Linked DNA regions of Homo sapiens: region 1 is linked to region 2. The links come from fine-mapping of genetic effects on gene expression. Tissue or cell type: esophagus mucosa. Region 2 holds a variant in brackets; the other region holds the start of a gene. All regions are shown on one strand. Distances are from middle to middle. Region 1 holds the start of MCPH1-DT (MCPH1 divergent transcript). Region 2 has its middle 32 kb from the start of MCPH1-DT.

The links. PIP is the estimated chance that this variant, and not a neighbour inherited with it, causes the effect.
Region 1: it holds the start of MCPH1-DT, and the variant in region 2 is fine-mapped to the expression of MCPH1-DT in esophagus mucosa (GTEx, PIP above 0.99). The same link has a PIP of 0.9 or more in tibial artery.

Annotation. Positions count from the first base shown.
Region 1 is chr8:6,395,016-6,409,859 of GRCh38, reverse strand. It overlaps MCPH1-DT (MCPH1 divergent transcript), which reads left to right and starts at 3,312. Exons shown (of 2, transcript NR_040040.1): 1 at 3,312-4,154; 2 at 4,740-6,304. It overlaps MCPH1 (microcephalin 1), which reads right to left and starts at 3,233. Exons shown (of 14, transcript NM_024596.5): 1 at 3,171-3,233; 2 at 490-581. The coding sequence starts at 3,192. RefSeq lists silencers at 2,972-3,151, 3,412-3,491, 9,886-10,086.
Region 2 is chr8:6,366,274-6,382,437 of GRCh38, reverse strand. No RefSeq gene overlaps it. Among named protein-coding and RNA genes, the nearest start is that of MCPH1-DT, 32 kb to the left of the region's middle. The variant A/C (reference allele first, on the strand shown) is at 9,044.

The sequences.
Region 1 (14,844 bases), 28 kb before region 2:
GTCACCACTCTTCATCCTAACCATGCCTGACATGGGACGATGTCCACACCTGTGACTTCACATGACCCCTATGGTCCTGACCCCCTAGATCATCATCTCTAGCCTTGAACACTCCAAGCTCCAGACTTGTATATCCAAATATCTAACAGATATTTTTCAGTATGCCCAAATTTACAATTTTTCCCTTAGAAACCTGTTCCTTTTCCTGTATTCCTCACTTTGCTTAATAGCACTATGCATTCAAGTAACCAGTGTAAGAATCCAGCATTTCATCCTAGGTTCCTCCTCCTCACTCAATGCCCACAGGCATTGAGTTCTGAAAGTCCTACTGTTCTAAATTCTTCACACTTTGGCTCTTTTTTCTCCCACCGCTTACCCATTGCTTCGTCCAGATTCTAAGTAAAAACTCCCAAAATAAGAAAATGCAAATGTAACTTTTTACCAATCAGAAGACTGTCATATGAATCAACAGCAAAATAAGTGTCTTACCTTTGCCCCCATATCCACAAGCTGTGTTGTAAATGTCTTTGAATAATTTTCTGTTCCATTGGATGACCACACTTCAACATAGGCCACTACATCTGAAAACAAGATATGAACATGAAACATACATTTGAAATTCCAGCATCCCCTGCCCAATAGATTTTGTTCTATTTACATTTAAGAGTAAACCGAGGCCGGCACAGTGGCTCACGCCTGTAATCCCAGCACTGTGGGAGGCGGAAGTGGGTGGATCCACGAAGTCAGGGGTTTGAGACCAGCCGGGCCAACATGGTGAAAAACCATCTCTACTAAAAGATACAAAAAATTAGCCGAGCATGGTGGCGGGCACCTGTAATCCCAGCTACTGGGAGGCTGAGGCAGGAGAATCACTTGAACCCGGGAGGCAGAGGTTGCAGTGAGCCGAGATTGCGCCATTGCACTCCAGCCTGGGTGACAGGGCGAGACCCGTTTCAAAAAAAAAAAAAGAAAAAAGTAAAACAAAAATTTACTCTACTGGCCAGGTGTGGTGGCTCATGCTGTAATTGCAGCACTCTGGAAGGCCAAGGCAGTGGGATCACTTGGGCACAGAAGTTTGAGACCAGCCTGGGCAACATAGTGAAACCCTGTCTCTAAAAAAAATTTTGTTTTTAATTAGCCAGGAATGGTGGCGAGTGGCTGTAGTCCCAGCTACTGGGTGGGAAATGGGGGTGGGTAGGGTGGAGAAGCTGAGGTGGGAGAATCCCTAGAGCCCAGGAGGTAGAAGCTGAGTTATGATCGCACCATTGCACTCCAGCCTGGGCAGCAGAGAAAGACCTTGCCTCAAAAATAAGAAAAGTAAATGAAGTTTCTTCTACTGGCTGAACAAAGTAGCTCATGCCTGTAATCCCAGCATTTTGCAAGGTGGAGGCGGGAGGATTGCTTGAGGCTAGGAATTCAAGACCAGCCTAGGCAACATAGTGAGACCCTGGCTCTACAAAAAAATAATAAATTAAAAAATAAAAATAAAAATAACCGGGCGTGGTAGTGCCTGTAGTCCCAAGTTACTCAGGAGGCTGAAGCAGAATTGCTTGAGCTATTATGTGATCACATCACTGCGCTCCAGCCTGGGCAAGAGAGTAAGACTCTGTCTCATAAATAAATTTCTACTGAAAGCCTTTTCAAAATAGCTTCAGTGGAATTTATTAAAATTTTAAGCAAAGAACAACTGTACCCATACAATACATGAGAGTTTACATTTGTAAAATTAGTTGCTTTCCCCAAATTCTTACGCTTAATTTTTCCAGTGCAGAAACCTATTTTCTGTAAAGAGACAGATGGTAAATATTTCAGGCTTTGTGGCCAATACAGTATTTGCCACAACTACTCAACTTCACGGTTGTGGCACAAACATAACCATAGGTAATATATTAACGGGCCGGCCTGTGTTCCAATAAAACTTTATTTATGGAGAAGGAAATGTGAATGTGATATAATTTTTCATTTGACCTTTTTTTAAAATCACTTAAAAATGTAAAAGACATTCTTAGCTCGTAGACCCTTACAAAAACAGGCAGCAGGCTAGATATGGCCTGGGGGGCATAGTGAGTGGACCCCTGTTCTAGTGGATATCCTCTTCTCAAAACCTGATGTTTAAAAGCATTTTCCAGGTGTGCCGTTGGTCAATGATTGGGGGTAACGCTAAAAGAAAACCAGGTTAATTTAACAAAATACTAACATTAGAAAAATAGCCACATCTGATTACAGACTTTGTATAAAGCCTCTAGTCTTTACTTTTGGCTATGAGGTTTTATGACTCCAGGCCCCACAATACAGGCCCCTTTTTTCTCACGGTCAAACTCTACAAGACACGTGTCCGCTATTCCCCTCTCCTGGGCTCTTCCAGGTGCACAGAGGGTGGGACTGCGTGCGGTATCATATACTGGTTAGGACAGCAGCTCCGGTCTAAGGCCCTGTCAGCACTGACTAGCCACACACAGGGAGAGTCACCTAAACGTCCGATGCCTTAGTTTCTGCCTGTAAAATGATATAAGAGAGTTGATAGAGCGGTTAAAAAAATCAGACAATACCATACTAGCCTAAGCACAGCGCCTGGCACACAAAGACTCCGCAGTAAAAGGCGGCTCCTATTATTGGAACAATTAGCATAGAAACTCAACTGCCGCTCCTCCAGGTGGGCCTCAGAGGGGGTCGAACAGGACCAGACCCAGGAGGGCCCCACACCAACTTCCGGAGGGCAGGACTCTGCCTGCCAGTGAGCCCCAGATCCAGGGACTAAGGCAGCAGGGGTGAAAGCAGGTAGGGGGAAAGGCGGGATTTGGGGGACAGGCAGCATGGGGGAGGGAGCAGGCAGCGGGGGATTGAGGGGAACTAGCAGCACGGGGGTTGGGGCACAAGCAGTACGGGGGAGGAAGCAGGCAGTCGGGGGTTTGGGGGGACAGGGAGCACGGGAGACGAAGCAGGCAGCCGGGGGTTTTGGGGGGACAGGCAGCGGGGGAGAGAGCAGGAGCAGGGGGTTTTGGTGGGACAGGCAGCGGGGGAGGAAGGAGGCGGCAGGGGGTCTGGGGGAGACAGGCAGCGAGGGAGGGGCGAGCGGGGCTCCTCCCACGGGATCCCCCGAGTGCGCCCGCGACGAGGGGTGCCGGTCCTCAAACTCCCGCTGCTGGAGCAGGCAGCAGGAAGTACCTCACCTTTCAGGATGGGGGCCGCCATGACAGACGGCGGGATCCGGCCAGCTGGCCTACGCGGTGCTTGCGAGCCTGGCGGCGCGCGCGGGCACTGGGCATGCGCGGGGTGAGCGCGCCGCCGTCACCGCGCTCCGCTGAATCCGCGTTTCCGGGATTTCTCTGTAGGTGAGGCGGGAGGCTGGAGGGAGCTGAGCCCCCGGGGAGGGGGCCCGATTCCGCCTCGCCGCGCCTCTGGCTGCTGGGCCGTGGGTTTTTCTCTTCTCCTGGGAGTAAGGAGGACGACGGCCCCTAACCCCTGAATTAGCCTTCTATTTCCATTAGTGACTTAGAAGCTACCCGGCGCCTCATCTGGGCTCACCTGAGCTGAGGATCAGGAAGGGGAGGGGGCACAGTCATTCCCTCGCGGACGCGGCGGGACCCCAGCGGACGGCTTTGTGCGGACTTTCGGCACCGTTATGCCCCCCTAGCCCGACACCACCTGGGGCTGGCGCGCCACGTTACTGTTCAGGGCCAGACGCACCGCCCTGCCTGCTCCGGGGAGCCGGACCTCCGATCCCGGGGATGGGGGACCCCGAGACCTCAGACCCAACGGAGGGGACTCTGATACCTCAGACCCCACGCGGGGACCCCGAGGCTTCAGACCCCCACAGGGTGACCCCGAGATCTCAGACCCCCGCAGGAGTACCTCCAGACCTCAAATCCCCAGTAAGGGAATGAAAGAGACTTCGGATCCCTGAGGCAGCAAATCCCTGTAGGGGCATCCCAGGACTCAGGTCACCGCGGGGTGAACCCAGACCTCACATTCAGGCAATCCCCAGGACGCCGATCGGCTGGCACTACCCACTGTCCCGGCCACCCCCCCTGGAGCTCAAAGGCTTGGCCCTCCAGCTGCTCCACCCTGCCGGCAACCAGGCTCAAACCTGCAGCCCGCGGATCCCCTGCCCCGGAAGCAACCAGATTCGCGGGAGGTTACCTGACTGATCCAAGGTGATACAGCTGGTAACTGATGGAGATGTTGGTAGTGAAATTCATGTACTTTTAGTTCTTTCTATGGAATCTAGAGGTAGAATACATGTAAAAGAATATCGACTACCGTCTACTCAGGTCTCTGTTTTATCTGTTTATTCATTCACTCTCAGCTTTTAATAGGATCCAATGAGCCCTCTGTGGTTCTGAAGAATTGCCTTGAGTATATGCAGCCTCAAAAAACCCACTTCCTAGGCTCAGTCTTTGATCAATATTTATCATTATCACCAGTTATTGTTCTAATAAACTCTACTCTGGAAATATGGTGTTATGGTTTACTTGGGAGTGTGAGTTCAGGGCATCATTGAAGACTCACGTACTTTTACTGAGAAAGTGACATTGATCTCTGTAGATTTTGAATTAAATGATATGATGAAGTATATAAACCAATTACTTTTGGTCAAGGTGGTAAAAAAAGTTTAGTATTTGATAGATTCTTCATCTCCACGATCACAAATATTTTCTCCTAGGATTTCTTCTAGAAATATTACTGCTTTAGGTTGTATATCAGGTCTAGGTTCTACTTTTTTTTTTTTTTTTCTCCAGGCAGTTTCTCACTCCGTTGCCCAGGCTGGAATGCAGTGGTGTAATCACAGCTCACTGCAGCCTCAACCTACTGGACTCAAAGGATAAGATCTGCTTTTAATTAATTTTTGTATACGGTATGGGATAGGGACCAAAGTTCATTTTTTTGCATGTATACATATCCAAATGTTCCAGCATCATTTATTAAAAAGTTATTTTTGTCTCTACTGCATTTCCTTTGTGCTTACATCAAAATCTGTGTTGCATATGTATGTGTTTCATTTTAGGCTTCCTATTGTGTTCCATTGAGCTATTTGTCTTTTTGCTGCCAGCACCATGCTGTTTTGATTATTGTAGCTATATAAATAAGTGATGAAATCAGATAGTTTATGTCCTACAACTTTATTTTTCAAGGTTATTTTGTATCTTCTAGATTCTTCAGATTTCCTTTTAAATCTTAGAGTCGACTTCTCATTTTGCACAAAAAAATACTGCTGGGATTTTGATTGAGATTGTGTTGACTCTACAGATGAATTTGGGGAGAATTGACATTTTAACCATATTGAATCTTCTGACCCATTAACATTTAGGTCTTTTAAAATTTCTCTGGCCAGACGCAGTGGCTCACGCCTGCCACTTTGGGAGGCCAAGGCGGGCCGATCACAAGGTCAGGAGATTGAGACCATCCTGGCTAACACAGTGAAACCCCATCTCTACTAAAAATACAAAAAATTAGCCGGGCGTGGTGGCATGCGCCTGTAGCCCCAGCTACTTGGAAGGCTGAGGCAGGAGAATGGCATGAACCCGGGAGACAGAGCTTGCAGTGAGCAGAGATCTTGCCACTGCACTCCACCTGGGGCAACAGAGCGAGACTCCATCTCAAAAAAAAAAAATATAACTGTTGTTAGATTTTAACCTAAGTATTTGTTTTTTTATTTTGTTTTTCTTTTTTTCTTCTTTTTTTTTTTTTTTTTTTTTTGAGACAGGATCTCACTCTGTCTCCCAGGCTGAAGTGCAATGGTGTGATCATGGCTCATCTTGAAGCCTCGACCCTCCTGGGATCAAGCTATCCTCCCACCTCAACCTCCTGAGTAGCTGGGACTACAAGTACACATGACCATGCCCAATTCATTTTTTAAATTCTTTGTAGAGGCGGAGTCCCACTATGTTGCCCAGGCTGGTCTTGAACTCCTGGGCTCAAGCAATCCTCCCACCTCAGCTTCCCAAAGTGTAGGGATTACAGGCATGAGCCACTGTGCAAGGTCTTGTGTTTTTTGATAATATCGTAAATGGTGATTTTTTCATTTGTTTCTGATTGTTGCTAATATATGGAAATATAGTTGATATCTGCAATTGATCTCATGTCCTGAAAACTTGCTAAATCTGCTTAATAATTTTTTGTACATTCAAAATGATGTTCTACAGGTAGTCGTATTGTCTATGTTGGAAGGAAAGCTTTTCCTCATTCAATGTCGGTCCTGTGTTTGAAGACCTGCAAATTAACTGATAACAACAGGTTAACAGGAGAAAAGACAAGGTTTAGAGTAACTCACTAAATAGAAATAAAGGTTTATAGATCCACTTAACAAAATGTGTTGGGAGATTTTGGAGTTTCAGTAGGAAGTTGTGGAAGGTTCTTTTGGGCTTTTGGATGCTTATGAGAATGGGCAATCTGTCTCTACAGTAGTGGAATTTACAGGAAACTTCCTCAGAGGGAGGCCAATGGCAGCTGTATTTTCTGGGGGCTCTGCTTTAGTGAAATAAGGGAAGTTCAAATAAAATTTCTTGATGCGTCTTTCTTAGATCAAATATTTTCACAGTAAAATAATCTTTATACCAACTTTTAGGGCCTGAATGGTCCACACATTTCTCCATCTGAAACTTCCCTAGAAATTTCATTAACAAAAAAAAGAAGCTAAGTTGATTGCTGTGGGGAGATGATTTGAGTTAGAAATTGTAAGATGAGAGATCTGTAAAAGGGGGAAAAACATAGATTAGAACAAGGAAACAAAAACAATGATTAATGTTCAGAGCAGACGATAAACCCAGTCTAGAGGGTAAGCCAGTTATGAAATTTTCTAGATGTTGGGCTCCAGCTATCTTTAGTGAGGATGGTAGTGGTAGGTAGTGTTGCCATCATGGTTATTTCCTAGAGCACAGTCTGGAAGATGCAGGTGTTCTGGGGAAATATTTGAAAGACCCACGTGTTGTGATAAGTCTTTTGAAGTTTCTGTCTAGCCATCCAGCTTCAGCTTGCAAGGCTTTGAGAAGGAATCAGTTTTAGTTCTCAGTGACGTCAAGTCAGTAGAGTGGGAGGAAAATTGGAAATACTGATTACTGACAAAATATGTAAGATGGCAGGATCCAGGTTTTGTTTTGTTTTTTGTTTTGTTTGTTTGTTTTTGAGACTGAGTATCACTCTTGTTGCCCAGGCTGGAATGCAGTGGTGCAATCTCGGCTCACTGCAACCTCCACCTCCCAGATTCAAGCGATTCTCCTGCCTCAGCCTCCCAAGTAGCTGGGATTGTGGGCTAATTTTGTATTTGTAGTAGAGATGGGGTTTCTCCATGTTGGTCATGGCTGGTCTCGAACTCCCGACCTCAGGTGATTCCCCGGCCTCGGCCTCCCAGAGTGCTGGGATTACGGGCGTGAGCCACCGTGCCTGACCGGCAGGATCCAGCTTTTAAAGAGGTAAAAAAATTGCTCAAAGACAATGAACAAGACTAGAGTCTGATAACTCACACAACTGGGTTATAGTTTGCCATTGAAACATAAAATTTCTCTGTATAATTACTACCACTGAGATCAAAGATAAACAAAGTAAGATTACTCTTGTTTACAAAATAAGTCTTGTCTCATTAAATTTGGCCTGATCATTTACATAAGTCCAGCAAGAATGATAATTGACCACAGGAGCCTTTTTAGGTTTGCTTGGCTGGAACTTTTATAAGGAATCTCAGATTAGAGTTTTAAGACTACACCTACACAGCCAGGCGTGGTGGGTCACGCCTGTAATCCCAGCACTTTGGGAGGCTGAGGCGGGTGGATCACAAGGTCAGGAGTTCAAGACCATCCTGCCTAACCCGGTGAAACCCCGTCTTTACTAAAAATACAAAAAAATTAGCCGGGCGTAGTGGCGGGTGCCTGTAGTCCCAGCTACTCGGGAGGCTGAGGCAGGAGAATGGCATGAACCTGGGCGGCAGAGTTTGCAGTGAACCGAGATTGCACCACTGCATTCCAGCCTGGGGGACAGAGTGAGACTCCATCTCAAAAAAAAAAAAAAAAAAAAAAAAAAAAGACTACACCTATACTATCTGTAGTTTCAGATAGAGAAATGTGGGGATCCATTCAGACCCTAAAACTGTTGCTCTTCTTGAGGTTTCCAAAACATCTTAAGGCCCTGGGCCTGCGAGTAAGTAACCCATCTTACTCACCTGTAAGCCTGGAACCCTGTAAGTCAGGTAAGGCACCAGGTCAATTATTTCAGCAGAGCTTTGTAAGCATTGGCTCCATCAAGTCAACCTTAGTTTCTTAAAAATGTCTGGTCACGTCTAATTCTGTGCACATCAGTCTCAAATATGACCTTCTAGTCAAAGTCTTGGTAACATAATCAATTTTTCCAAATAATGTCCTTTTTTAAGGAGAACAGATTCTTCTTGAATTTATGCAAACAACTATATTGCCATGAGAATAGGAATATTCAATAAGAATTGACAAATTTTAGAGGAAGCAGGGAGAAAAAGATAAATTTTTCATTTCTACTTATGAAAGTTTATTAAATTGTTATCATTTGTGGATAGCTTAAGAGAAAAGAGAAATCAAAGGATGTATCACAACAGTTTGGGGTTTTCAATTATTTCTCCAGAACACTTGCATCTTCCAGGCTCTGCTCCAGAAAATAACCATGACTCCAACATACCACTACCATCCTCACTAAAGATGGAACCCCACATCTAGAAAACCTCATGACTGGCTTGCCCTCTGGACTTAAAAAAACTGGGTTTATATTCTGCTCTGAACATTAATCATTGTTTTTATTTTGTTTCCTTGTTCTAATCTATGTTTCTTCCCTTATATTCAGGACATAGAACATTCAAGAACCAGCAATGTTTCAAACAAAGGCCATTTAAAAAATCATAACCATTGTTTATCAGTCACCTCAGTTCCATATGATTAATTCTGGCCTTGCTTGATCTTGGATTAGCAGTGTCATGAACCCATCAGCTTTTCAACTAGAGTTCTGGAAATCCTTCCTCAGGGCAGTGGTATGAGATTAAAGTTATTTAAGCAATGTCATCAGAAGCCTGTACCCCACAGTACTGTTACAGGCCTTTCCATGGATCTTAGAGAAACAGTCCTTTTTGTTGAAGATGAAGTATTCTGGCTAATAACTGATCGCTAGAGCTTTCAGGAAAGTACCAGAGTAAAATAATAACTGCGAATGACAAAAAGGCAAAAATGGCCATGGTAAAGATCGGATGAAGGTTTATTTTAATTCTGTTAACAAGGAAAATCAGTTTTTTTGTGGCATACATTTAAAATCATAACTGTAATCATGACTGATAATATTATACCAGGACATATTATGGTTATCAAGGGCATTGACAAATTTCTAGGAACTTTATTCAGTTTCTGAAATAATAACATTTATCCATGCAAATACCACCTAAGGAAGGTTAAGTATCTTTTCTTGACAGTGAGTGCCTCCCGTGCAATTTAACATATTGAATAAACCTAATTAGTTTAACATCTCTCTTTTTACAAAATGAGAGAACAAATATTTTGAGATCTTCTAGGGACCCTTTGGAAAATCTCAAAGTCAGTTCAAAGTTAAAAAAATTTCATTTAGAATTTCATTTGGGGAAGTTGTCAAAAATGCCAAAAGCGTTGAACACTTGATTAAATAGGATCACAGGTCACTGTGAAACAACACTTAATTATCCATTTAATTAAACTGACAATAAAAATAGCCATAGGAGATTCTATGATTGTAAGAAAAAAATAGCTTTTTTTTTAAGGTGAGAAGATTTAGTTGTCTTAAATAATCAAAGACATGATAAAGCACCAGAAATTATTCTAATAAAACACAGTCACTGATTTCTAGGTGGTATTAATGAAAAAAAAATGTTCTTAAAGTTGTTGAAACAGTAAATACTTTTTTTTTTTTTAATTTAAGACAGGAGATTTATTATTACTCAAATCAGTCTCCCCAAGGAGCATCCAGGGATCAGAGTTTTGAAGGATAACTTGCTGGGCCGGGGGCAGCCAGTGAGTCAGGAGTGCTGATTGGTCAGGTTGGAAATGAAATCACAGGGAGTCAAAGCAGTCTTCTTGCGCTGAGTCAGTTACTGGGTGGTGGCCACAAGATCAGATGAGCCCGATTATCCATCTGGGTGGGGCCAGCTGATCCATCAAGTGCAGGGTCTGCAATGTATCTCAAGCGCTGATCTTAGGAGCAGTTTTGGGAGGGTCAGAATCTTCTAGCCTCCAACTGCATGACTCCTAAACCATAGTTTCTAATCTTGTGGCTAATTTATGAGTCCTACAAAGGCAGTCTAGTCCCTAGGCAAGAAGGAGGTTTGTTTTTGGAAAGGACTGTTATTCTCTTGGTTGTAAACTATAAACACTAAGCTAAGTTCCTCCCAAAGTTAGTTCAGCCTATGCCTGGGAAAGAACAAGGACAGCTTGGAGGTTAGAAGCAAGATGGAGTTGGTTAGGTCAGATCTCCTTCACTGTCCCAGTTACAATTTTGCAGTGGCTGTTTCAATCCCTCCCTTTGGTTTTTTTGTTTGTTTGTTTTTGGTGCGATTTTGGCTTACCGCAACCTCCACCTCCCGGGTTCAAGCAATTCTCCTGCCTCAGCCTCCCGAGTACCTGGGACTACAGGCATGCACCACCACGCCTGGCTAATTTGTTGTATTTTTAGTAGAGATGGGGTTTCACCATGTTGGCCAGGCTGGTCTCGAACTCCTGACCTCAAGTGATCCACCTGCCTTGGCCTCCCAAAATGTTGAGATTATAACCATAAGCCACCGCTCCCAGACTCCTTTTGGATTTTATAACACCTTAATCTTAAGGTGTTGGCTAATGAAAATTGAAAAAGGGCGAAGGCTGCTCTAACTTCTTCCTGCCGATCTGAGGCATAGTAGGGGTAGGCGTTAACCCCAAAGTGAGAGAAATGGAACTGCTTTGCAACTGTGTGAGCGTACTCATGCAGGCCTGGCTGGGGTTCCAAGGCTCGCATGGCAAAGGCATTAGTATTAACATCTATAGTTTTAGTACTGCATTTGAGGGAACAGTGACTATCAGGTAGATAATGAATACTAGGGTGAGGAGTGCAATTCCCAGTTTCAAAAGTAAAGATTTGAAAGCATTAGTTTGGGGACTTTTAGCCCACAGAGAATTTAGGATTTAGTCCAAACTGAAGGAAAAATTCAAGAACAGCTAACAAAAGGTGTACTGTAACTTTTGTTTTTTTTTAGATGGAGTGTCACTCTGTTGCCAGGCTGAAGTGTAGTGGCAAGATCTGGGCTCACTGCAACCTCCACCTCGCGGGTTTAAGCAACTCTCCTGCCTCAGTCTCCCAAGTAGCTGGGACTACAGGTGCATGCACACCACCACGCCCAGCTAATTTTTGTATTTTTAGTAGAGATGGGAGTTCTCCATGTTGGCCAGGATGGTATCAATCTCTTGACCTCGTGATCCAACTGCCGTGGCCTCCCAAAGTGCTGGGATTATGGGCATGGGCCACCACGCCCAGCCTATAAGTCTTTTTTAAGTATAATTTTTCTCTTTCCAATCCTCATTTTTTTCTTTTCTTTTTTTTTTTTTTTGAGACAGAGTCTCACTCTGTTGACCAGGCTGGAGTGCAGTGGCGCAATCTCGGCTCACTGCAAGCTCTGCCTCCCGGGTTCACACCATTCTCCTGCCTCAGCCTCCCGAGTAGCTGGGACTACAGGCGCCCGCCACCACGCCCGGTTAATTTTTTGTATTTTTAGTAGAGATGGGGTTTCACCGTTTTAGCCAGGATGGTCTCGATCTGCTGACATCGTGTTCCACCTGCCTCGGCCTCCCAAAGTGCTGGGATTACAGGCGTGAGCTACCGCACCCGGCCCCCCAATCATCATTTTTATTAAAAACAAATAATGATAGGACTGATTGGTTTGCAAAATAAACTTTTATTGTACTTGGCCTGGTTATTTGCATAAAGCACAGCAAAAATAATTATTTTTCATATAGGATTTTTAAATTGGCTTTGATGGAGCTCTGTTCTATAAGGAATCTCAGATAAGACTTTTTAAAAGCTGAGCCCTGCCATGGGTTTATACCGTCAAATACCTATGAGTTAGGTAAATTATTCTTCTCTTGAGGTGCCAAGATAACTTGGGGCTCCTCGGCCTGTTAGAAAGTGCCATTCTTTACTTATCACAGGTCAGAAACCTTATACAGGGACTGTGTAAAGAAAATATGAGGCCAGATTTCCCAAGAGGCTTTTATTGGCTCTGTAAATCAACTTTGATTCCTTAAAGAAAGCATGCCATTCCAGTCAAAGCCTTGGTAAAATAACCAGTTTCTACAATCGTGTCCTGTTACAAAAGAAAACAGATTCTTATCATGCTTATGCAAATGTCTATACTACCATAAATTGAGAATACTCACAAATAGTTCCCAAATTCTGGAGAAGTCAGGTAGAAAGAAATATGCTCCAAATTTTGTTCACAGGAGTATATTTTACCAATTGTTAAAGGCTGTAAATAGCTCAAAAGATAAGTTTTCTTAGTTCTGGATAAGAAAAAGGATCAGCAACATTTTAAGCAAAAAAGTAAAAAAAAAAAAAAAAAGGTTACTTCAGTCTTTTATTAGTTCAGTCCATTCAGTTAACTTTTGTTCTGCTTCATATCCATGAACATTTCAGCTCTCCATGAGAGTCCTGAAAGTTTTTCCCCTTTACACTTGTGTCATCATCATCTCCAAAGTTATCAGAAACTTGCATTCAAGAGTACCTGTCAAAGTTTTATAGCTGATTATAAAACCACCTTCCAAAGTGGATCAAAATGAGACAATTGCCTTGGATGACAAAAATATTTTAGGGCAGCCACAGTTAAAAACACAATTGGGCTGCGTGCAGTGGCTAACGCCTGAAATCCCAGCACTTTGGGAGACTGAGGCAGGCGGGTCACGAGGTCAGGAGATCAAGACCATCCTGGCTAACCCAGTGAAAACCCATCTGTACTAAAAATACAAAAAAATTAGTCGGGCATGGTGGCAGGTGCCTGTAGTCCCAGCTACTTGGGAGGCTGAGGCAGGAAAATGGTGTGAACTCAGGAGGTGGAGCTTGCAGTGAGCCGAGATCACGCCACTGCACTCCAGCCTGGGTGACAGAGCAAGATTCTATCTCAAAAAAAAAAAAAAGAAAAAAAAAATTGACAAGGAAATTTGTTACCTCTGTGACACACAATAATTTAACATAACAATTATAATTATTACTGATAACATATACTGAGGCATATCAAAATTATAGGACTCTTATAATCTTATACAATTTTGTAATACATACTAATAACACATTTATATAAATGTAACCCAAAGAAAATTAAACACTATATTTGACAATGTTTACCGCATGATTTTAGTACTTTAAATAAGCTGAATATGTCTTTTTGGACTTTAGGCAACTTAATTTTTTTTTTAACTTAGAATTTGATCTTGAGAGGTCTGTCAAATATCAAAGGTTTAAAAACACTGGATATCAGAAAATAGAGTCCCAGGTCACTATAAGTTATTCAATAGCCAAAATGATAACTCTAAAATTTTAAAGAAAAACCGTTACTCTGATAAGAGACTTAACTTTCCAAACAACCAGACCCAATGAAGATAGCATGAGTCCCACTGAAGGAAGACTTTATTAAAGACTGTTGAGATAGGGAAGAGAGATTGGGCTCAACTCTGAATTCAGCAAAGACAACTGGGGATTTCTGGCCATTGAACAGAGTGAGAGGTCATTGGATGGAAAATTACAAAAAAGAGACAGCAAGGGTAGGCAGATTCTTACTAGACCAACTGCTGTAGTCTGCATGTTGGTGTCCCCCACAAATTCAGATGTTGAAACCTAACCACCAGTGCAATAGTATTAAGAGGTAGGGTCTCAGTAGTAGTAAGAGGTGGGAAGTGATTAAGTAATGAGGGCTCTGTCCTAATGAATGTGATTTTTGCCCTTAACAAGAAGTTGAGAGAAGTAGTCCTTGTCCCTTCTGCCATGTGAGGACACAGACTTGACCCTTTTCCCTTATAAGGTCACATAGAAGGCACCATCTGTGAAGAACAGGCCTTCACCAGACACTGAATCTGCTGGTGCTTTGCTGTTGGACTTCCTAGCCTCTACAGTTGTGAGAAATAATGTCTGTTGTTTATAAATTTCTCAAACTAACATGTTTTGTTTTAGCAGCTTGTATGGACTTAGATGGAAATTGATAGCAAGAAGTGGGGTGCTGCTGTAAAACAATACCTAAAAATGTAGAAGTGGCTTTGGAATTGTATAATTAGCAGAAGCAGGAAGAACACTGAGGTGCACATTAGAAAAAGCTTGTATTGCTATTGTTGGGTCATAGAAGGCGATTCTCATAAGGCCGAGCGCAGTGGCTCACACCTGTTATCCCAGCACTTTGGGAGGCCGAGGCGGGCAGATCACAAGGTCAGGAGATCGAAACCATCCTGGCTAACACGGTGAAACCCCATCTCTACTAAAAATACAAAAAAATTAGCCAGGCGTGGTGGCAGGTGCCTGTAGTCCCAGCTACTCGGGAGACTGAGACAGGAGAATGACATGAATCCAGGAGGTGGAGCTTGCAGTGAGCCGAGATCGCGCCACAGCACTCCAGCCTAGGTGACAGAGCGAGACTCCGTCTCAAAAAATAAAAAGGCGATTCTCATAAGGGCTCAGAAGAAGAGAACTGTAGAAAAAGCCTCAATCTTCTAAGACATTACTTAAGTGGTTATACTCAGAATGTTGGTAGAAATATGGTCAATAAAGGCAATTCTGATGAGGTATCAGAAATGAGGGGCATGTTATTAGAAACAGGAGGAAAGGCCATCCTTGTTATAAAGTGGCAAAGACCTCAGCTGAATT
Region 2 (16,164 bases):
CAGTGCACTCACTGCAACCTCTGCCTGCCAGGTTCAAGTGTTCTCCTGCCTCAGCCTCCCAAGTAGCTGGGACTACAAGCACATACCACCATACCCAGCTAATTTTTGTATTTTAATAGAGATGTAGTTTCACCATGTTGGCCAGGATGGTCTCGATCTCTTGACCTCGTGATCCACCTGCCTCTGCCTCCTAAAGTGGTGGGGTTACAGGTGTGAGCCACCACACCCAGCCCAAAATCCTGCTTTCAATCATTTTGAATATATCCCCAGAAATGGTATATGGTAATTTGTCATTTAATAGTTTAAAAATATTTCTTAAGAGGAGATGTTCTCCACATGTCTCAATAGCCGATAATGAAAGGATCCTCTGGATAAAACAGAACCCTGGATGTTACTATTACATGTGAAAACAAATACCGTTATTGTATTTTGATAGTCTTCTTGGCCTCTTTCCTCTTGGTCTCTTTAATCCTTAACAATTCACTAGTAAAAAGGAGATACAACAAGTCAACCAGGTAAGAATAACATAAATAATGACATCTCAGAGAGCAGCATTGAATCTCACAGCTCTGAAGTACTGAAAATGGCCAAACAAAAAATGGGTAGGAAATGGAAAGATTTAAAAGAAAAACAGTGGAGAGAGAATAAAAACACTGCCTTGAGATTGTGGAGGAAGGTGGTATTTATGATCCCATTGAAAAATTTTAGGTGATTTTTAAAATTTAAAATCTGAATCAAAAAGTACTATCAAAGTGCTTTTGAACAGTGCCCTAGGTAGAGCTCTTCCCTGAAACCATTGCGGGATTGCCTGAGTGATGAAAGGCCATCTTCATTTTCTCTTCTGGGGCAGAAGCACTGAACAGTTCAGCTGTGTTTTTAAATTTGTGGGTTTTTTTCTTTTAATTTCAATTTTATTTGGTGGTGGGTTTCATCTATATTTTCTAGAAGAGAAATTGCCTAGATAACACTCAGGCTAATATAAACTCCCTTTAAATTCTTTTTTTTTTTTTTTTTTTTTTTTTTGAGACGGAGTCTCGCTCTTTTGCCTAGGCTGGAGTGCAGTGGCACAATTTTGGCTCACTGCAACCTCCGCCTCCTGGGTTCAAGTGATTCTCCTGCCCCAGCCTCCCGAGTAGCTGGGACTACAGGTGCCTGCCACCATGCCCAGCTAATTTTTGTATTTTTTGTTAGTAGAGATGGGGCTTTACTGCGTTGGCCAGGCTGGTCTCAAACTCCTGACCTCGTGATCCACCCATCTCAGCCTCCCAAAGTGCTGGGAATATAGGTGTGAGCCACCGTGCCCAGCCAACCCCCTTTAAATTCTAATCAAAGGATCAGGGCAGCAAAAATTTTATTGGTTTGAATAAACTGTAATCAAAAATTGTTTACTGGTTACAAATTTTTTTTTTCTTGAGATGGAGTTTCACTCTTGTTGCCCAGGCTAGAGTGCAATGGCACAATCTCAGCTCACTGCAACCTCCACCTCCCAGGTTCAAGCAATTCTCCTGCCTCAGCCTCCTGAATACCTGGAATTACAGGCATGCACCACCATGGTCAGCTAATTTTGTATTTTTAGTAGAGACGGAGTTTCTCCATGTTGGTCAGGCTGGTCTCGAACTCCCAAGACTTCAGGTGATCCGCCTACCTTGGCCTCCCAAAGTGCTGAGATTACAGGTGTGAGCCACAGCACGTGACCTCTGGTTATAAAATTAATGAGGAAATTATCAGAATGGAGACTATGAAAGTTCAATCTAATCAGGTCCTGATATTAGACACATTGGATTACAGACCACCCTTATGACCTCATTTAACCTTAATTACCTCCTTAAAAGTCCCATTTCCAAGCAGTCACATTGGGGTTAGGTCTTCAACATACAAGATGCGGGAGGAGACACAAATCAGTCCCTAACCCCTGCCTATTAGTATTTTCATTTAGTTCATGACCTTGGAGTATATATTTATATTTTTGTACCACAAGACTAGCATGTGAAATATTCAGTGACTACCATCCTTCAATATACTTTAACGCCAAAACTATCTGGGGAGACAGTAATCCCAGCACTTTGGGAGCCTGAGGTGGGCAGATCATCTGAAGTCAGGGGTTCGAGGCCAGCTTGGCCAACATGGTGAAACCCTGTCTCTACTAAAAGTACAAAAATTAGCCGGGTGTGGTGGTGCAAACCTGTAATCCCAGCTACTCGGGAGGCTGAGGCAGGAGAATCGCTTGAATCTGGGAGGTGGAAGTTGCAGTGAGCCAAGATTGTGCCACTGAACTCCAGCCTGGGTGACAAGGAAGACTCTGTCTCAAAGTAAGCCTGACCAAGAATGATGGTGATTGTCCCCACTCCCAACCCCAATCTATTCTTACTGCTGTAGCCAGAGTGGACTTATACAAACACAAATGAGATCACATCACTCCTCTGTTTAACGTCCCTCAATGACTATGCTATCCTCAAGGAATATGCAGATCCTTACTGCAGCCCGTGAGGCACTGCATGACTTTTTCCTCATGGATTCTCCAACCTCCCGTCTTGGCTCTTCCTCATGTCATTATCTACTCAATGTTCACCTCTCTTGCTCACTGCAGGGTACCCAAGCCTCGTAAGTGCTTGTGAATAACAGAGGTTCACTAAATTTTGTTGCATTATTGAATGATGAGAAAAGAAAAGGCAAAGCCACTTAGAACAGAGCTCTGAAGGGCTCCAAACTTTATGAGTGAGGTGGAGGAGGTATAATAGGCAAGGGATTGTAAGAGGGAGTAGCCAGGAAGGTAGGAAGCAAACCAGAAGGGTGGTGGTGAGGAAGGCAAGAGAAGGTTCTGTTTCACAGAGAGGGAGGAGGTCACAATTTCAGATGTGGAAGGGTCAACGAAGATAAGGATGAAAAATGTTCATCATTTAGCTCTCACATAGAGGGGAACAATACATACTGGGGCGTTTCAGAGAGTGAAGGGTGGAAGGAGGGGGAAGATGAGGAAAAACAACTAATGGGTACTAAAGTTAATACCTGATTGATGAAATCGTCTGTACAACAAACCCCCATGATACAAGCTTACCTATGTGGCAAACCTGCACTTGTACCCCTGAACTTAAAAGTTAAAGAAAAAAAAATTGTTCATCTTAAACTTAGTGACAAGGAGGCCACAGGGGGCTTTATTGAAAGCAGTTTCAAGGGATTGAAAAATGTAGGCAGCAGATTTCAGGGTGAGAACCTTAAGTTTTCGCAGTGTGGTGAGAATGACTCTTCTTCACATGGGGATCAATCTTCAGACCTTAGCCCTACAATTTACTAAGCATGAGCTTCAGCAACATACTTAATCTTTGTATTCTTCATCTGTAACTTGAGAATAATAATGATACCCATCTGCTGCGTTGATGGGAGAATTAGAAATAATGAGTCCCACAGATTTAGCTCAAAGATTCTAAATAAATGGTAACGGTTGTTAAAATTTAGTTAAGCTTTTGCATTTAAATTTACTATTCTGGGCCAGGCACAGTAGCTCATGCCTGTAATTCCAGCACTTTGGGAGGCCGAGACAGGTGGATCATGAAGTCAGGAGTTCGAGACCAGCCTGACCAACATGGTGAAACACCATCTCTACTAAAAATACAAAAATTAGGCCAGGCACGGTGGCTCACGCCTGTAATCCCAGCACTCTGGGAGGCCGAGGCGGGCAGATCACGAGGTCAGGAGATCGAGACCATCCTGACTAACACGGTGAAACCCCGTCTGTATTAAAAATACAAAAAATTAGTCAATTTTTTGTATTTTGTGATGGCAGGCACCTTTAGTCCCAGCTACTCTGGAGGCTGGGACTCTGGAGGTGTGAACCCAGGAGGTGGAGCTTGCAGTGAGCTAAGATCATGCCACTGCACTCCAGCCTGGGCGACAGAGCAAGATTCTGTCTCAAAAATAAATAAATAAATAAAAATAAAATAAAATACAAAAATTAGCCAGGCATGGTGGTGCACTGTAGTTCCAGCTACTTGGGAGGCTGAGGCAGGAGAATCACTTGAACCCAGGAGGTGGAGGTTGCAATGAGCTGAGATCACGCCACTGCACTCCAGCCTGGCAACAGCAAGACTCTGTCTCCAAAACAAACAAACAAAAAAATTTTTATTATTCTGTGAAAATAGACTTAACTAAATCAATAGATGCTGAAGCATTTTTTAAAAAGCATATCAGCTACATTATGATTAAATCAAGTTACTGTCAACTCACTTGCTTTTCAGTTAGGTAAAACTGATAAAAAACAACAATGTGTGTGCATGCACTTCTGTGTGTTTTACAGGAAACATAAAAATTTTAACAGAATGTATATGTATTTCACAAAGAATTTCTAGAATTGTGTCAGTAGATAAATATACAAATGAATCACTAGTGAAATTATAGTGCTGAAACATAATGGACAAAACAAAAATTCTGGTTCTGATTGTAGGCAAAAATGCTTGGACCAGATTAGCACATTGTCATAATTCTTTTCTCTACTTGGAGCTTTTATGGAAGTCATTGGTGGGTAAACTTTTAAATTTCTTCCTCTATGACTTGAAGTAACTTTGATGTGCATCACATAATATTTGATGGAAACATCTATGTTAGGTTACCAAGATGGCAAAATATTTTGTTTAATATCAAAATTCAGCAAGTATAGTCAGCTTATTTTGGAACATTTTTATGTTTTATAGAAGTTTTCCTGGCTGGGCGTGGTGGCCCATGCCTGTAATCCCAGCACTTTGGGAGGCCGAGGTAGGTGGATCACCTGAGGTCAGGAGTTTGTGAGCAGCCTGACTAACATGGTGAAACCCCATGTCTACTAAATACAAAAATATCAGCTGGGCATGGTGGCGCATGCCTGTAATTGGAGCTGCTTGAGAGGCTGAGACAGGAAAATTGCTTGTACCTGGGAGGTGGAGGTTGCAATGAGCCGAAATTGTGCCATTGCACTCTAGCCTGGGCAACAAGAGCAAAACTGTGTCTCAAAAAAAAAAAAAAAAGTTTTCCCTAAAGTTTTACAGAGTGTTAAATGTGAATTGAACTATCAGCAGATGTATTGATAATTTCATCTTCATTTTTGAAGAATAGTTTTACCAGGTATAGAATTTTTGGTTAACAGTTTTTTTTTTCTTTCAGGGTTTTGAGTACATCATCCCACTGCCTTCTGGCCTCCAAGGTTCCACATGAGAAATCAGGTGTTGATCTCATTGACGTTCATTGTATGTGATAAGTCATTTCTTGCTGTTTTCAAGATTCTGCCTTTATTTTGACATTTGACAGTTTGGTTATGACATGTTTAGGCATGTATGTGTTTGAGTTTATATGACTTGGAATTTGTTGAGCTTATTGGATGTGGATATTAATGAGCTTACCAAATTTGGTAAGTTTCCAGCTGTTATTTCTTCAAATATTCTCTCTGTCTTTTCTTTTCTCTCCTTCTGGCACTCCCCAGTGTTTGCGGTTGTTACTGCTTATTGCAGTTGTTTGTTTAGTGACTTTTCTGAACTAAATCCATAAAGCTTGTATTTTTTTTCTTTTGCCACTGAAGTCACAACTATATTGCTTAGTGGTCAGCTGAAGATTAAACAGATATTTTCTTTTATTTTCTTTTCTTTTTTGCGATGGAGTCTCGCTCTGTGGCCCAGGCTGGAATGCAATGGTGTGATCTCAGCTCACCGCAGCCTCCACCTCCCAGGTTCAAGTAATTCTCCTGCCTCAGCCTACTGAGTAGTTGGGATTACAGGCACAGGCCACCACAGCTGGCTAATTTTTGTATTTTTAGTAGAGATGGGGTTTTGCCATGTTGGTCATGCTGGTCTTGAACTTCTGATCTCAGGTGATCCACCCACCTCAGCCTCCCAAAGTGCTGGGATTACAGGCATGAGCCACCGCGCCCAGCCAGGCCAGATTTTTTATTAAATACTCATAGTCTTTGTCAAGGGACTGTGATTGCATGTTGGGGGCATGCTTTCAACACTCAGCCAGGCAGCTTACAATTCTGCCTTAAGCCTTCTTTCCCACATGACAAGGAAAGGATGTGCCACTCACCTTTTTGCTTTGTATCCCAGGTTTGAATACCTTTCCTTAGCACTATCCTCAGTCTGACAACTTTCAGATCATAATCCAGGTGGAAATATAGAGGAAAAAGTAATTATGGTTCAATGTGGCAAGTGAACAGAGCAGTGTGGCACCCTGCTGGCATAAGACATGTCCATGAATATCACTTGCCTGCCAATATACTCTGGAAATAGGGAAATAACAGTGAAGAGATACTCTGAACAAATAGAATTCTAGATGAAACTCATTATACTGTTGCTGCTATATATTGCAGAAACAAGATAGAAAAAGAATAAAAGACTACAAAATAGTGGCTGAGAATCCAAAAGAATCGGGAAGATGAATATCAAAATAAAGCCAGTATTCTTGGCAAGTGGTATAACTTCACATATTATAGTAGCTTAATATCCCATATAGCAGTGGTACCCAGCCTTTTTGGCACCAAGGGACCGGTTTTGTGGAAGACAACGTTTCCATGGACAGGGACTAGGGGGATAGTTTCAGGATGAAACTGTTCCACTTCAGATCATCAGGCATTAGCTAGATTCTCTCCTGCACATGTGCAGTTCACAATAGGGGTGAGAATGTAATGCTGCTGCTGATCTAATGAGAGGCAGAGCTCAGGCAGTAATGCTGGATCACTCGTAGCTCACCTCCTGCTGTGCGGCCCGGTTCCTAACAGGCCACAAACTGGTACCAGTCTGTGCTTGGGGACCCCTGCCGTATAGAATTGGTTATCTGTCACATTTTACAAATTACTCAGAAATGTCACTTGTTAACCTACCAGAAAATAAGATAGACAGAAAATGTCTATCTTAAAGAATTTATGTATTTTCTTCATAAAGCCTACCAAGTTAAGAATTTCCAAAAATTAATTAAGAGACACGTAATAAGGGCCAGACGCGGTAGCTCATGCCTGTAATCCCAGAAGTTTGGAAGGCCGAGGCGGGTGGGTCACCTGAGGTCAGGAGTTCAAGACCAGCCTGGCCAACATGGTGAAACCCTGTCTCTACTAAATATACAAAAAATTAGCTGGGCGTGGTGGCAGGCGCCTGTACTCCCAGCTACTGGAGAGGCTGAGGCAGGAGAATCGCTTGAACCTGGGAGGCGGAGGTCGCAGTGAGCCGGGATCACGCCATTGCACTCCAGCCTGTGCAACAAGAGTGAAACTCCATCTCAAAAAAAAAAAAAAAAAAAAAAGAGAGAGAGACAGGTAATAAGAAGACAATAAGTCTAGTGATAGAGTTTGCATAGTATGTAATTTGTAAAATAATTTAATAAGGACAAGTGAATTATAGACTAGGATTCACACTCTGTGATGATGACATTCTAGAACAGAAACAATACTTTCATCATTAAAACACATCTATCTTTAGGCAAAATGTGTCTGATATTGCCAACATAATCCAAAACTTATACAAGTTGTTTGAAAAGTTATGACTGTTTACAGGCGATACTAGAGATGTACAGCCACTACTTACAGAGAATTTTGAGGTTTTGACATTTTTGCGTTTGTTTATAAGACATGTATCACTAACAGCCACAGAAACTTGACTATGTAATTGTCTTATTAATAAAAATGGAAGCAGGTCTGAGAACCAATTGTTTAATCTGGGAAGTGTTGCCAAGACCCACAGTAGAAGGAAAAAGGGAGCCTGCACTCTTGGTTTTCACAACTAGATGGTGCTGCTCCGCTTTCAAATGGGAAGGACTGCAAAGCCCTTAAAACATCAAGAGTTCTCCTGGAAACAGCCACGTAACTAGCACCTTTTACCTGTGAAGCCCTTGCTGGCCAACTGTTGCTTGCCAGCAGTGTGCATGTTACAGTGTGGGTGATCATTGTGCAAAATCATCTCACGAACACTTATTTCAACTTCTCCAATGTAGTTATTCTGTACGTAGATGCTCCTCCCTGGATATCAATGTTAGGACATGTACAAGAAATAGTAAAATTAACCTAGATGAAACAAGAAAACATCGAATCACACGTTATGGCTTTAAAAATATTACACACATAATCTAGATTCAATTTAAGAGAGTTAGAAAATGCAGATCATCAAAATGACAGTAAAACTACTTATAGCCTTTCAACATAGCTTTGAAAGCAGCAAGACTGGCTAGCCTTGGTGATACTGAAAATCTAGAATACTGAAAGGGACATCAATGCAGTATGTTTTTAACCCTGTTACTCCTTCACATTGCAGCAGTACTGCGGGCTCTGTGACAGTACTTCCCATTGCAGCAGTACTGTGGCCTCTGCGGCAGTACTTAACATAGTGGCAGTACAGTGGCCTCTGTGGCAGGACTTCACATTGTGGCAGTACCGTGGCCTCTGTGGCAGGATTTCACATTGTGGCAGTACCGTGGCCTCTGTGGCAGGACTTCACATTGTGGCAGTACCATGGCCTCTGTGGCAGGACTTCACGTGTGGCAGTACCGTGGCCTCTGTGGCAGTACTTCACGTTGTGGCAGTACTGTGGCCTCTGTGGCAGGACTTCGCATTGTGGCAGTACCGTGGCCTCTGTGGCAGTACTTCACATTGTGGCAGTACCGTGGCCTCTGTGGCAGGACTTCACGTGTGGCAGTACTGTGGCCTCTGTGGCAGTACTTCACGTTGTGGCAGTACCATGGCCTCTGTGGCAGGACTTCACATTGTGGCAGTACCATGGCCTCTGTGGCAGGACTTCATATTGTGGCAGTACCATGGCCTCTGTGGTAGTACTTCACGTTGTGGCAGTACCGTGGCCTCTGTGGCAGGACTTCACATTGTGGCAGTACTGTGGCCTTTGCAGCAGTACTTCATATTGCAGCAGAACTGTGGCTTCTGTGGCAATACTTCATATTGTGGCAGTACTTCATATTGCAGCAGTACCATGGCCTCTGTGGCAATACTTCATATTGTGGCAGTACTTCATATTGCAGCAGAACTGTGGCTTCTGTGAAAATACTTCATATTGTGGCAGTACTTCATATTGCAGCAGTACAGTGGCCT[A/C]TGCAGCAGTACTTCATATTGTGGCAGTACCGTGGCCTCTGTGGCAGTACTTCATATTGCAGCAGTACTGTGGCCTCTGCGGCAGTACTTCATATTGCAGCAGAACCGTGGCTTCTGTGGCAATACTTCATATTGTGGCAGTACTTCATATTGTGGCAGTACCATGGCCTCTGTGGCAGTACTTCATATTGTGGCAGTACTTCATATTGCGGCAGTACCATGGCCTCTGTGGCAGTACTTCATATTGTGGCAGTACCGTGGCCTCTGTGGCAGTACTTCATATTGCAGCAGTACTGTGGCCTCTGCGGCAGTACTTCATATTGTGGCAGAATTGTGGCTTCTGTGGCAATACTTCATATTGTGGCAGTACTTCATATTGCAGCAGTACCATGGCCTCTGTGGCAGTACTTCATATTGTGGCAGGACTGTGGCTTCTGTGGCAGTACTTCATATTGTGGCAGTACTTCATATTGCGGAAGTACCGTGGCCTCTTTGGCAGTACTTCATATTGTGGCAGTACTGTGTCCTCTGTAGCAGTACTTCACATTGCGGCAGTAGCATGGCCTCTGTGGCAATACTTCACATTGTAGCAGTACTGTGGACTCTGCGGCAGTACTTTTTATTGCGGCAGTACTTTTTATTGCAGCAGTACCGTGGCCTCTGTGGCAATACTTCATATTGTGGCAGTATTTTATATTGCGGCAGTACCGTGGCCTCTGTGGCAATACTTCATATTGTGGCAGTATTTTATATTGTGGCAGTACTGTGGCCTCTGTGGCAATACTTCATATTGTGGTGGTACTTGTTATTGCAGCAGTACCGTGGCCTCTGTGGCAATACTTCTTATTGTGGCGGTACTTTATATTGCAGCAATACTGTGACATCTGTGGCAGTACTTCATATTGCAGCAGTATCGTGGCCTCTGTGGCAGTACTACTCTTCCTAGTTTTTTCCCCTTCCCTCTACCTTCAGTACTGGATTGCATCGTGCTGTGATGCACATGTGTTTCACGTTTTAAATCACTGAATTTGGGATAGATTCTACTATCGCTGCTGTCTTACCACCTCTGAGGGCCAGGTGGCAGTCATGATGTGGCTGTCATTCTCTAAGCATGGTAGAGTATTGGCAACATTTGCTGGAAAAAAATCTGAGACTAAGCACTCCTTGTTTTTTCATTTTTAAAATATTTATTTATTTGAAGACAGGGTCTCTGTTATCTTGGATGACACCCTGTCTTCAAATAAATAAATGCTTAAAAAATGAAAAAACAAGGAGTGCTTGGTCTCAGCTTGGAAGTTGAGCCTGCAGTCACAGCTCACTGCAGCTTCAACCTCCCGGGCTCAAGCAATCCTCCCACCTCAGCCTCCCGAGTTGCTGGGACTATAGGCACACACCACCATGCGTAGCTGATTTTTTTTTTCCGTGTTTTGCTGAGACAGGGGTTTTGCCATGTTGCCCAGGCTGCTCTCAAATTCCTGGGCTCAAGCAATTCATCTACCTTGGCTTCCTAAAGTTCTATGATTGCAGGCGTGAGCTACTGTGCCCGGCCTCTCTGTGTTTTTGTAATTCCTAAAAACAAATGGTTCTGAAAGAAGGTGGGAAAGGTGGCAAGGCAAGTGTATTTACCAACATTCTTGAGGCAGGACCAAAAGTATACCAGCACTTCATGATTGCAAAACAGGTTTAAGAGGCCAGCAATAATAGCCTTTAGGTGGATTGTGGATTCTCTTAAATGCATCATCACCAACACTTTAAATGATGCGAAGAATGACTTTTAATTTTTTTTTAAAAAGTAGGTAGTTAGTTATATTTCTGAGACAAAAAGTGGGTCAAGCACCAGCCATCCCTTCATCTGCATAGGGGGCCAGTTCACCCTACCGTTTAATTAGTCACAGACCAAATTTTCATCCAGATAAGGGGTAACCGACAGGGACCTCAAAAGGAGTACTTAAAAGCGAGAAAACTTTGTAATGGGGCCCTTGAGCCGCTTGCTTGGGCCCACTCCCACCCTGCAGAGTGCTTTCTCACTTTCATAAATCCCTGCTGGCCGGGCGTGGTGTCTTACCCCTGTAATTCCAGCACTTTGGGAAGCTGAGGCCGGCAAATTATGAGGTCAGGAGATGAGACCATCCTGGTCAATATGGTGAAAACCCATCTCTACTAAAAATACAAAAATTAGCTGGGTGTGGTGGCGTGCCTGTAGTCCCAGCTACTCAGGAGGCTGAGGCAGGAGAATCGCTTGAGCCTGGGAGGTGGAGATTGCAGTGAGCCGAGATCATGCCACTGCCCTCCAGCCTGGCGACAGAGTGAGACTCTGTGTCAAAAAAATCAATCAATCAATCAATCCCTGCTCTTGCTGCTTCGTTTTTGTGCTTCGTTCCTTTTTTGCTTTGTTTGTGCTGTTTTGTCCAATTCTTTGTTCTAAACGCCAAGGACCTGGACAACTTACTCTCAAGGCCTTCCCTCCAGGAACAATTAGACATTATAGTAAGTGGACATCATGCAAAGTCAGAATTTATGCTAAAAAGTTGTGAACTTTACTCCATAACATATCCATAGTTTTCTTATGTAAAAATCTTGTTTCTCTTCCCCAGATTCTCACATCCTCTCTAAACACTCTCATCCTCAGTGACCTCTTCTACTTCCACATCCACAGTCTCAGTTAGCATCACTAGCTGAAAATCTCTATGCAGGACTTCTTACTGACATATCAACCTGCTTATGAAACCAACCCAATAGTCACATAGATATTTTTTTTTCTTTTCTTTTCTTTTCTTTTTTTTTTGAGACGGAGTCTCGCTCTGTCGCCAGGCTGGGGTGTGGCCAGGTTGGAGTGTAGCGGGGCAATCTCGGCTTACTGCAACCTCCGGCTCCCCTCCTGGGTTCAAGTTATTCTCCTACCTCAGTCTCCTGAGTAGCTAGGACTACAGGCGCCAGCCACCACGCCCGGCTAATATTTTTGTATTTTTAGTAGAGACGCAGTTTCACCATGTTGGCCAGGATGGTCTTTATCTCTTGACCTCGTGATCCGCCCGCCTTGGCCTGTCAGAGTGCTGGGATTACAGGCGTGAGTCACAGCGCCCGGCCCAAAAATTTTTTGAATGAACATAGAAATTCACTTTTCTCGTCTTAGAGCTTAAACCTTACATTGGTTTTATCTGAGTTCCTTCCTCAGGAAATGACCTTCATGGCTCTCAAGAAAGGATCAAAGAACTGAAACTCACCAGATCACAATATCCTGACAATGAGATGCTGGACCTCTCATTCATCATGATTGCTTCCTTGCCCCTTCCTGGTTTCTGTTTTCTTACATATTGTTATGTTATTTTTTATTTTATTTTATTTTTTATTTTTTTGAGATGGGGTCTTGCTCTGTCACCCAGGCTGGAGTGCAGTGGTGCCATCTCGGCTCACTGCAACCGCCGCTTCTCGGGTTAAAGTGATTCTTCCGCACCTTCGCCTCCCAAGCAGCCGGGATTACAGGCGTGAGCCACCATGCCTGGCCATGGCAGTACATCTTGATAGCTCTACCTTGTAAACACATATTGGCTCTGAACACTCCTCAGTGTCTCCACTGCCACAACACGGACCTCCACCATCACTCCCTTACCTGCAGGCCCCAGCAGTGCCTAGGTGGCCTCCTTAGCATGGTTCGTACCCACAGAGCAGCCAGAAGGGATCTGGCCAAAGTCTAAAACAGATCATGTCTGCGTGGCTTGCATCCTTCAGTGGCTTCTCATTATTCTCAGAATAAAGTTAAAGGCCTCTCCATGGGCTGTGAGGTGGGCCAGCACCCTCTCCAACATCGCCTCTGTGTTTCTCTTGTTTACCATATTTTCTCCCCTCCTTTCTGCATCCTAAATGTACCATGCTCAGTTCTGCCTCAGGACCTTCACACTTTCTATTGTTCTCCTTATCCTTTGGTTCGTACTCACTATTTTGATCTTTTCAGTTAGGTCACATTTTCATAAAGAGGTGATAACCCTTTTTTTTTAAGTCCTTTTCTACCATATTACATTGTTTTATCTTTTTCAGAGAATTTGTTGGTGCTTGAAATTTTTCCCATCTGTTTTTTTTTTCTATAGCTCTCTGTTCATCTATCCATTGTGTGTTTATTTCCTGTCTTTGACCCAAATATATGCTCCTTAAGGGCACAGGGCTCTCCTTTTCCTCAGTCTACCTCTTTAATTTTTTTAATTATTTTTCCTTAGAAACAGGGTCTGGAAAACATGCTCTCCCCCACTGCAGGTACCTGTAATCTCAGCTACTTGGGAGGCTGGAGCTGGAGAATTGCTTGAACCCAGGGGACGGAGGTTGCAGTGAGCCGAGATCACGCCACTGCATTCTAGCCTGGGTGACAGAACGAGACTCCGTCTCAAAAGAAAAAAAAAAGAAAGAAAGAAAACGAAGGAAAAAAGGAAAAGGCTGCTGGGCACTGTGGCTCACACCTGTAATCCCAGCACTTTGGGAGGCTGAGGTAGGCGGATCACGAGGTCAGGAGTTCGAGACCAGCCTGGCAAACATGATGAAACCCTGTCTCTAATAAAAATACAAAAAATTAGCTGGACGTGGTGGCAGGCCTCTGTAATCCCAGCTACTCGGGAGGCTGAGGCAGGAGAATTGCTTGAACCTCGGAGGCAGAGGTTGCAGTGAGTCAACATTGCACCACTGCACTCCAGCCCAGGCGACAGTGTGAGACTCCATCTAAAAAAAAAGAAAAGAAAAGAAAAAGGCAAGCCACAGACTGAGAGAGGATATTCACCATACCTGTATTAGACAAAGGACTTGTATAACTTTTTTTTTTTTTTTTTTTTTGAGACAGGGTCTCTTTCATTCTGTCACCCAAGCTCGAGTGCAGTAGTGTCATCATGGCTCACTGTAGCCTCAAACTCCTAGGCTCAAGTGATCCTCGTGCCTCAGCCTCTGGAGTAGCAGGGACTACAAGTGCACACCATTATGCTTGGCTAAATTTCTATTTTTATTTATATTTTTTATGGAGACAGAGTCTTACTGTGCTGCTCAGGCTGGTCTCAAACTTCTGGGCTCAAGCAATCCTCCTGCCTCAGCCTCCCAAAGTGCCAGGATTACAGGTGTGAGCCACCATGCCCAGTCTAAAGATATTTAAATAACTTAAATTCTTTAATAAAAAGAACACAATAGGGAAAACTGGACAAAAGACTTGAATGGAAGATAAGTACATGGCCAGTGAAAATCCTTCACATCATCAGTCATCAGGGAAAAATGCAAACTAGGACCACAAAGGTATACTGCTTCACGCTTGCCATAGTGGCTGAAATGGGAAACTAAATACAGAATGCTGATGAGGATGTAGAACAATTAGAACTCTTTTTTTTTTTTTTTTTTTTTGAGACGGAGTCTCGCTCTGTTGCCCCGGCTGGAGTGCAGTGGCGTGATCTCGGCTCACTGCAAGCTCCGCCTCCCGGGTTCACGCCATTCTCCTGCCTCAGCCTCCCGAGTAGCTGGGCCTACAGGCACCCGCCACCATGCCCGGCTAATTTTTTGTATTTTTAGTAGAGATGGGGTTTCACTGTGTTAGCCAGGATGGTCTCTATCTCCTGACCTCGTGATCCACCCACCTCGGCCTCCCAAAGTGCTGGGATTACAGGCGTGAGCCACCACGCCCGGCCGCAATTAGAACTCTTACCCACTTCTGGTAGCAGTGTAAAGTGGCACAACTACTTTGGAAAAGAGTTTACTATAAAGTTAAACATTTACATACCATCAAATGAGAAAGTTCACTCCTGGCTATTTATCCCAGATATGTCAAAACCTGTGTTCACACTAAGACTTGTTCATGAATGTTCATTTTATGTTAATTCATAAGAGTCCCAAACTACAAACAACCTAAACACCCATCAACAGGTGAGTGTGGTATAAATAAACCATAGTTATCCATACAATGGAGTACTATTCAGCAACATAAAGAAATGAACTACTGATGGCCAGTCGGGGTGGCTCATGCCTGCAATCCAGCACTTTGGGAGGCTGAGGCGGGTGGATCATGAGGTCAAGAGATCGAGACCACCCTGGCCAACATGGCGAAATCCCGTCTCTACTAAAAATACAAAAATTAGCTGGGTGTGGTGGTACGTGCCTGTAGTCCCAGCTACTCAGGAGGCTGAGGCAGGAGAATCGCTTGAGCCCAGGAGGCAGAGGTTGTAGTGAGCCGAGGTCGTGCCACTGCACTCCAGTCTGGTGACAGCAAGACTCCATCTCACCAAAAAAGAAAAAAAAAAAAAAAAGAAGAGCTACTGATACTTGCAATAACATGGATGAACCTTGAAAACACTATATTGAGTTTAACAAAGTGGATACAAATATGATCATACATGTGGTTTTGTTTATAGAAAATGAAAGGTAAAATATTTATAACTACAAAAAGCATATCAGTGGCTGACTGGGGCTGGGGAAGGAGGGAAATTCACAGGTTGATAAAAATATTCTGCGTCATGATTGTGTTGATGGTTACACAGGTGTATACATTTGTCAAAACACAAGAAACTGGACACTTAAAATGGATGTTTTTTGTGTATAATTATACCTCAATAGAGATGATTTACAAATAAAAATTAGGGAATATTCATCCAGAATTGTCATGAGGACATCTGTAAGAGTCTGGCTTTTTAAAATATGTGATAAATGCGGCTGAATTTGAAGCTAACTGAGCCAATGCTTTCTCTCCTTTTGGAGAGAGCAGTCACATTAATTGACTTTCACTTTGATGAAAAGTGAAAAAGGAGGTGGCCTTGGGTTCTGGAAGATGAACGTTCACTGGGCAAAGCGCCAACATTGCTCATTATTCGCAGTGAAGGTTCCAGGGAGTCAGCTTGGCTTTTTGAGCCCAGGAAAGAGATACAATATTAATATTGGGGGTCTCACTGAAGTCTCACTACAAAGGTCCCCCTTCTCACTCACTATTTTCCCTTCTGATAGAATCGAATCATAGGTTCTTATGCGGGAAGAAAGCTCGGAAACTATGTAGTTCAACCTGCAGTTGCCTCACCATGGACATTATCTCTGACTTGTTTTCTCATTTGCCCCTCTCTGAGATCTAAAGAACTCTTGCTCCCTTTTTTTTTCAAATCTTCCAGGAGTCTGGC